Regions from separate parts of the Homo sapiens genome. Here region 2 is linked to region 1. The links come from fine-mapping of genetic effects on gene expression. A gene starts in region 1. The other region holds a variant in brackets. All regions are shown on one strand. Distances are between the middles of the regions.

Evidence for each region. PIP is the estimated chance that this variant, and not a neighbour inherited with it, causes the effect.
Region 2: its variant is the best candidate, but not a certain one, in a credible set for the expression of CCDC120 in testis (GTEx, PIP 0.57).

What each region holds. Positions count from the first base shown.
Region 1 is chrX:49,056,858-49,061,244 of GRCh38, forward strand. It overlaps CCDC120 (coiled-coil domain containing 120), which reads left to right and starts at 2,142. Exons shown (of 11, transcript NM_001163321.4): 1 at 2,142-2,238.
Region 2 is chrX:49,011,460-49,015,846 of GRCh38, forward strand. No RefSeq gene overlaps it. Among named protein-coding and RNA genes, the nearest start is that of GRIPAP1, 11 kb to the left of the region's middle. The variant T/A (reference allele first, on the strand shown) is at 1,953.

The DNA.
Region 1 (4,387 bases):
TTACCAGGCACTGTTCTGCACAAGCTTTAAATGTATTAACTGATTTAATGCTCACAATAGCCCCGTGAGGTACATACTGTTATCATCGTCCCCAATTGACAGAGAGGCACAGAGAGGTTAAGTGACTTGTTCAAGCAGTCACACAGCTAGTAAGTGGCAGAGCTGGGTTGAATCCCAGACTCACCATTTACTAGTGACAGCAGGGTCACGTGAGGCCCAGGGCCCAGCTGGGGTAGGGCTTAGAGGTTGGGTCCTCTTCGAGGCTATTAAAAGTCATGGACCAGGGCAATGATGTGTGTTAGTGACTGCCCCATTTGTCTGCCTGGCCCAGGAGGTCCAGTTACCTGCTCTCCCCCAGTTACCCCCACAACAGCCCACCTCTGTGTGAGTGTATTAATTGTTGTTAGTAAGAGTCATTAATGACATGGTGTGTTTCCTTGCACTTTGAAATGCCTTTCAAAGTTATTTGGGGCCTCCATTGTCTCTGTAACCACCTTTTACCCATTTTACAGATGAGGAGACCTAAGCTTTGAGACTCAATCTACATTGCCAGCCAGATTCTCATCCCTCTTGGCTCTGATTTTATTACTGTCTCACTTCCCAACATCTTTGGTGGCCCATAAGAGGTGGGAGAGGCTGTGGCCGAGAGGACACTCCCCAATGCCCACCTTACCACTGCCCGCCCCAGGCAGTGAAGTGGGGAGGGCGATGAAAGGGGCCTTTGTGTTCCATGCTGGAAATCTCACACCCAGGAAGAAAGGTGGGCAGGGATGGCGGGAGGCCTTAATAGTATGAGTCTGGGGCATTGCTGATTCAGAGTGAGCTCCTCTCTAGGCTCAGCCCATCTGCAGCTTTTCTCACTTCAGGTCATGGTGTGGGCTGCTGCAGGGGTCTGGGTAGGGCTTGGGCCCTGGGTCACAGAGCAGATGGTCCTGAATGGAGCACAGGATGTGTGCTGTGTGCCGGGACTGGCCCAGAGCTCAGGTGGTAGTGGTGATGGTGGTGGTGGTGATGGTGGTGGTGGTGGGCGGGGTGAGGGGAGGCAGGGACAGTACGTCGTAAGGACTCAAAGCTCTCATTTCCTTCTCTGGCATGAAGCCTGACTCTCTGAAGAAGAGAGACCCAGCATGGATGTGAAGAAGCATGAGCCCCCTTCCCTACTTCTCCTTCCCACTTGCAGGAGTAGCCTCTGTCTGCCTCCCAGCCAGGACCCAGCCCCCGGAAATTCTGATTTCACCTGCTCTTCTGCCACTGTGATCTGAATCAGGCCTCTTCACCTTTCCAGGCCTCAGCTTCTGCATCTATAAAATGGCTGTGAGGAGGCTGGGTCTGTGCCATCCTGCTACATTTGTAGGAACCAAGAGGGATCAAAACCCATAAGTGTTTTGTAGGGTGTAAGTTGTGCTTGATTTATTGAGATTATTTCTTCTGGAGCCACAGAAGGATCTTGAGACCTGACCTCTCCTTAGAAAGGTTGACTTCCTCTGTCCCCAACTTGGGAAACTATTATTCCCCAGTGAGGGTGGGAATTGCCCCAAGGCCTTCTACCACTGCCTTGCCCTGGGAGGAAAGGGTAGGGGCCTCAGAATGTGATGCTTAGTGCCAAGACACAAAAACTCAGTTTACACCCGAAGCCTCCCATGTACTTTACAGCTCCCCACACCTCTATGGCCCAGATCCAAGTTGCCCCTTGGGTGGGCAGCGTCTAATCCTCTGGGAATTTGGGCAGTAGGAGAGGCAGCTGCTACTCCCACCACTCTCAGCCCTTCTTCCCAGTTTTCTGCTAAGTGTACGGGGTGAGGAGGCACAGGCCTCCATGCCTGGCCAGTTTTAAAAAAAATTTTTGTAGAGATGGGGGTCTCATTATGTTGCACAGTCTGGCCTTGAACTCTTGGCTTCAAGCAATCCTCCCACCTCAGCCTCCCAAAGTGCTGAGATTACAGGCACCAGCTACCCTGCCTGGCCCAGGCTGTCTTCTTAGACATGCTGAGCACCCTGAGTGGACCTGGCCCTGAAACTGCCCCCAGGGGTGACCCTAGTCCTGGTGGCAGACAGGCAAGGGTTAAAAGGTGTGGGCCGGCCCAGTTCCTGGCCAGGTAGGCTGGGCCATTACCTAGTGGGAGGTGGCCAAGGCATCTGCCACTGCTGCTGACTGCCACTACCAGCCGGAGCCAGGGCCTGGTCGAGACAACTATTTTTGAGGTATCTGAGGCTACCCCACAGCACTCTCTGGCATTGGTGAGCACCTGGGAGCAGTGGGCCCAGGGTGCGAGGGGGATAAGGGCATTGGGGAGCTGGGGCAGGGTGTACTGAAGTTCCCTTCGGTAGAGAGCTAGGTCTGTGGGAGAGGCACACCAACAATGCAGGGCAGGGTGGTGGTGGGGGGGTAGGGGGGCAGTGAGAATGGAGGGCCTGAGGACAGGGGCAAAGCCCAAAACACCAATTTCCTTTCCTGGCACCAAGCCGATTCCCGGCCGGAAATGGACGAGGAGGGATCGGGGAAAAGAGAAGTATGAGTCCCCCCTTCTCCACCCTATCCCTGCTTCCTTTCCTCCCCGCCAGGAGTAGCCTCTGTCCTCCCCCAACCCAGGGCCCAGCTCTCCAAGAAAGACCAGACTGGGCTACTAAGAAACCATTACTCAGGCACCTGCCTGCCTATGCCTGATTTGTTCACTGCAGTGGAGGAAGCAGGGGCTCTGGGGAGGGTAATGGCCCAGACATTGAGATTTTGTATTTGCTCTAATAGTGGCAGGATGTGGAAATGACCCCCCAACTGTTGGGGTGCCACCCAGGTGAGGTATCTTGGTTGTAAACAGTTATTACAGCCAGGAATTTCTTTCTCGGCTGTGGTGTCAGAATGGCAGACCTGAAAAACCTGCCGGGCCCGCCTCTGGGTGTGGGGGGTGCCCTCTACTGCTCTCCCGCTGCAGCTGGTCCCTGGGACAGGATGGGGGCCATGGGGTCACTGGTAGGGGGAGACCTGGGGTTGGTGTGGGGGTGTGCTGGGGAGGGGTTTGCTGGGATCCCTTTCTCGCCATCTGGGCGGGGATGAGGCAGCTCCAGGCCCCAAGGCAAGTATGCAGAGGGCAGGTGAGCGGAGGCAGAAGCTTAGGAACTGGGTGTGGGGGTGTGGGGCGTTGACTGTGTCTAGCCTGCCCAGTGACCCCATGACTCATACTCTAACTATGTCCCCCCGAGGTCGGGCTGATAGGGAGGAGTTGGGGTTCCTGTGTGGACCCTGTCTGGACTTCCAGGACGCTCTGAGAAATTAGAGAAGAAAGGATTGGCTGGGTGCAGTGCCTCACGCATGTAATCCCAGCACTTTGGGAGGCCGAGGCGGGTGGATCACCTGAGGTCAGGAGTTCGAGACCAGCCTGGCCAACATGGTGAAACCCAATTTCTACTAAAAATACAAAAGTAGCCAGGCATGGTGGCGTGCACCTGTAATCCCAGCTACTTTGGAGGCTGAAGTGGGAGAATTGCTTGAACCTGGGAAGTGGAGGCTGCAGTGAGCCAAGATCGTGCCACCACTGCATTCCAGCCTAAGTGACAGAGCCAGGCCCTATCTCCAAAAAAAAAAAAAAAAAAAAAAAAAAAAGAATCGAAGCAGCCCAGCATGGAATTGGGATTGGATTGGGACCAATGCTGGCAAGGGGGACCGTGGATGGAGTTGGGTTCCTGTGGGGGTAAAGGAAGGTTCCAGGGAACCCTGTGAGAGTTCCTTGGGCCTAAATGGGGGCTGGGAAAGTTGGAGCCCCAGTGATCTGGGATGTGGAGGAACCCCTGCCATGCTGGGAAGTGTCAGACCTTAGATGAGTGGGGATGTGGGGCCTGGGTTTGTCAAAAGGCTTTAGGGACTGATCCCCACCCCTGCTGTTGAAGGCAGGGCACCACTGCTTCAAGAGAGGGGTACAGGCCCTATGGGGCAGGCAGGAGGACTGCAGAGAAACATGACACCTTACAAGCAGCTTGGCCTCACCCCACAATACACAGATGGGGAAGGGGCTTGAACCCATGCCTCCTTGGTTGGCTGGGTCTTCCTCACACCAGGCTAACATGTCATGACAAGCTGCCGACTTCAAGGTAGGTGATAATGGAGCTCTGTGGCCCCATAAAGCCCTCCCAGTCACCTGCCACCTAGGTTAGGCCAGGTGGTGGGAGGTGATGTCACTCAGCTGCCCAGCTGGGGACTGAGCATGATGTGGAAGGAAGGGAGCAAACTCCAGAGGAGGGGTGGCCAGCCAAGGCAGGTTCCATGGTCAGCTGAGCCATCGGGGGCAGAGAAGGAGGCAGGAGGCAGGTGGTTCGTTATTTGCAGCTGTGGACTTTGCTTCTCACAAATCCCAGCAGGAGGACTTCCCTACACTAGGCTCAGGACAGGCTGTCA
Region 2 (4,387 bases), 45 kb before region 1:
ACCTCAGCCTCCCAAAGTGCTGGGATTACAGGCATGAGCCACCAGGCCCAGCCAACTTTTTTTTTTTTTTTTTTTTTTTTGAGACAGAGTTTTGCTCATATTGCCCAGTCTGGAGTACAGTGGCGAGATCTCAGCTCACTGCCACTTCTGCCTCCCGGGTTCAAGCAATTCTCCTGCCTCAGCCTCCCAAATAGCTGGGATTACAGGCATGCACCATCATGCCTGGCTAATTTTTGTATTTTTAGTAGAGATGGGGTTTCACCATGTTGGTCAGGCTGGTCTCCAACTCCTGACCTCAGGTGATCCACCTGCCTCAGCCTCCGAAAGTGCTTGGATTACAAGCGTGATCCACTGTGCCCAGACTTTTCATTAATTTATTTATTTTTGAGATGGAGTTTGGCTCTCATTGCCCAGGCTGGAGTGCAATGGTGCGATCTCTTCTCACTGCAACCTCCACCTCCCCAGTTCAAACTATTCTCCTGCCTCAGCCTCCCAAGTAGCTGGATTACAGACATGCGCCACCACACCTGGCTATTTTTTTTTTTGAGATGGAGTTTTGCTCTTGTCACCCAGGATGGAGTGCAATAGCGTGATCTCAGCTCACTGCAACCTCCACCTCCCGGGTTCAAGTGATTCTCCTACCTCAGCCTCCCTAGTAGTTGGGATTACAGGTGCCTGCCACCAAGCCTGGCTAATTTAAAATTTTTTTTTTTTATTTTTAGTAGAGATGAGGTTTTGTCACGTTGGCCAGGCTGGTCTTGAACTCCCGACCTCAGGTGATCCACCTGCCTCGGTCTCCCAAGTGCTGGGATTACAGCCATGAGCCACTGCATCCAGCCTTTCAGCCTTTTCGAGATAGTGTCTCAACTCTAGTCTCCCAGGCTAGAGTGTAGTTGCATGAACACGGCTCATTACAGCCTTGACCTCCTGGGCTCAAGTGATCCTCCCACCTCAGCCTCCTGAGTAACTGGGACCACAGGCACCTACCACCAGGCCCAACTAATTTTTGTATGTTTTGTAGATGCGCCCACCACCACACCCAACTAATTTTTGTATGTTTTGTAGAGATGGTTTTTGCCATATTGCCTAGGCTGGTCTTGAACTCCTGAGCTCAAGCAATCAGCCTGCCTCAGCCTCCCAAAGTGCTAGAATTACAGGCATGAGCCACCGGGCCAGCTGCAACTATTCTATTAATCCGAAATTATTTCAAGACATAATTTAAAATGGAAAAACCGGCTGGGCGCGGTGGCTCACACCTGTAATCCCAACACTTTGGGAGGCCGAGGTGGGTGGATCACTTGAGACCAGGAGTTTGAGACCAGCCAGGGCAACGTGGTGAAACCCCCTCTCTACTAAAGATACAAAAATTAGTCGGGCTCGGTGGCACACACCTGTAGTCCCAGCTGCTCGGGACGCTGAGACACAAGAATTGCTTGAATCTGGGGGACAGAGATTGCAGTGAGCTGGGATCGCACCACTGCACTCCAGCCTGGGTGACAGAGCGAGACTTCATCTCAAAAAAAAAAAAAAAGAAGAAAAATAGAAAAATGAAAATGAAACCAAATCTGTACCCTAGATGCGCTTATTGCTCATTGCTAGAGATATATCTGTTTGTAGGCCCTCTCAGTGAACAGACAGGGGACACATACACAGACATGCACACTAGTTCTCTTTATAACATAACTCTCTTTCTCTGTCTATATATAAAACCATGAGATCATCCTGATACCTCCAATTCCAATTCAACACTTCAGGGTAAACTTTTGTTTTCCCCATCCATATTTGTCACTCTTTTAGTAAGTAATCTAACTCCCATTATTCCTAATTACTTGTTTCCTCAAACCTAGATTACACAAAGGAATTTTCAGAATTGCCTAACCCACACCACTACAAAAGCAAATCTACTTACCAGAGTACAATATTTGTTTACAGATATATATATATATTTTTTT[T/A]AGAGACAGCGTCTTGCTCTGTCACCCAGGGTGGAGTGCAGTGTGGAACGATCTCAGCTCACTGCAACTTCCACCTCCTGGGTTCAAGCAATTCTCATACTTCAGCCTCCCAGACCTTTTTTTTTTTTTTCTTTAAGACAGGGTCTCACTTTGTCACCCAGGCTGGAGTGCAGTGGTGTGATCACAGCTGACCGCAGCCTCAAACTCTTGGGCTCAAGCGATCCTCCCACCTCAGCCTCTTATGTAGTGGGGACTACAGGTACATGCCACCACGCCTGGCTAATTTTAAAAAAAATATTTTTTTGTGGCCGGGGGCGGTGGCGCACGCCTGTAATCCCAGCACTTTGGGAGGCCAAGGCGGGCGGATCACGAGGTCAGGAGATCGAGACCATCCTGGCCAACACGGTGAAACCCCGTCTCTACTAAAAACACAAAAAATTAGCTGGGATTGGTGGCACGTGCCTGTAGTCCCAGCTACTTGGGAGGCTGAAGCAAGAGAATCGCTTGAACCTGGGAGGTGGAGGTTGCAGTGAGCCGAGATCGCACCACTGCACTACAGCCTGGGCGACAGAGTGAGACTCCATCTCAAAAAAAAAAAAAATTTGTAGGCCGGGCATGGTGGCTCACACCTTAATCCCAGCACTTTGGGAGGCTGAGGTGGGCAGATCACCTGAGGTCAAGAGTTCGAGACCAGCCTGGCCAACGTGGTGAAACCCCATCTCTACTTAAAATACAGAAATTAGCTGGGCATGGTGGCGGGCGCCTGTAATCCCAGCTACTCAGGAGGCTGAGGCAGGAGAATCGCTTGAAGCCAGGAGGCAGAGGTTGCAGTGAGCCAAGATTGCGTCATTGCACTCCAGCCTGGGCAACAAGAGCCAGACTCTCAAAAAATATATAGATAGATAGATAGATATGTATATATATATACACACACTATATATACACATACATATATATATATACACACACATACATATATATACACACACATATATATATAGTAGAGACAGGGACCTTACTATGTTCCCCAGGGTTGTCTCCAACTCCTGGCCTGAAGCAATCCTCCTGTCTCAGCCTCCCAAAGTGCCCAGATTGCAGGTGGGAGCCAGCATACCCAACCCATTGTTTACAGGCATTTTTCTTTTTTTTTTCTTTTTTTTTTTTTTTTTGAGACAGAGTCTTGCTCTGTCGCCTAGGCTGGCTGGAGTGCAGTGGCGCAATCTCGGCTCACTGCAAGCTCCGCCTCCTGGGTTCACGCCATTCTCCTGCCTCAGCCTCCCGAGTAGCTGGGACTACAGGCGCCTGCCACCACGCCCGGCTAATTTTTTGTATTTTTTTTAGTAGAGACGGGGTTTCACCGTGTTGGCCAGGATGGTCTCGATCTCCTGACCTCGTGATCCGCCCGCCTCGGCCTCCCAAAGTGCTGGGATTACAGGCGTGAGCCACCGCGCCCAGCCTGTTTACAGGCATTTTTGAGGTAAAATTTACATGTGGTAAAATTCACAAATCAAAATTCACAGCAGCCTGATAAAGAATACACTTGGCCGGGTGTGGTGGTTCGCGTCTGTAATCCCAGCACTTTGGGAGGCCGAGGCTGGCGGATCACGAGGTCAGATCGAGACCATCCTGGCTAACATGGTGAAACCCCATCTCTACTAAAAAAAAATACAAAACATTAGCCGGGCGTGGTGGCGGCTGCCCATAGTCCCAGCTACTTGGGAGGCTGAGGCAGGAGAATGGCGTGAACCTGGGAGGCAGAGCTTGCAGTGAGCCGAGATCGCGCCACTGCACTCCAGCCTGGGTGACAGAGTGAGACTCCGTCTCTAAAAAAAAAAAAAAAAAAAGAATACACTCAAGTAGCTCCTACCCCTATCATGATATAGAATGTTTACATCAGCAGGGCGCGGGGGCTCACACTTGTAATCCCAGCACTTTGGGAGTCCAAGGCGGGCAGATTACGAGGTCTGGAATTCAAGACTAGCCTGGGCAACACACTGAAACACCGTCTCTACTAAAAATACAAAAATTAGCTGGGTGTGCTGGCGGGTGCCTGTAATCCCAGCTACTCGGGAGGCTGAGGCAGGAGAATCGCTTGAACCCAGGAGGTGGAGGTTGCAGTAAGCTGAGATCGCGTCACTGCACTCCAGCCTGGGCGACAGAGCTAGACTCTGTCTCAAAAAAAAAAAAAAAAAGAATGTTTACATCACCCCAGTTCTTTCCCAGCTGTTCTCAGTCAATCCTCTCCCCTATGAGGCAATGAGTGTTAAAACTTCAGGGATCCTGTAATACCAGCACTTTGGGAGGCCGAGGCGGGTGGATTGCTTGAGGCCAGATGTTGGAGACTAGCCTGGCCAACATGGCGAAACCCCATCTCTACTAAAAATACAAAAATTAGCTGGGCGTGGTGGCATGCGACTGCAGTCCCAGCTACTCAG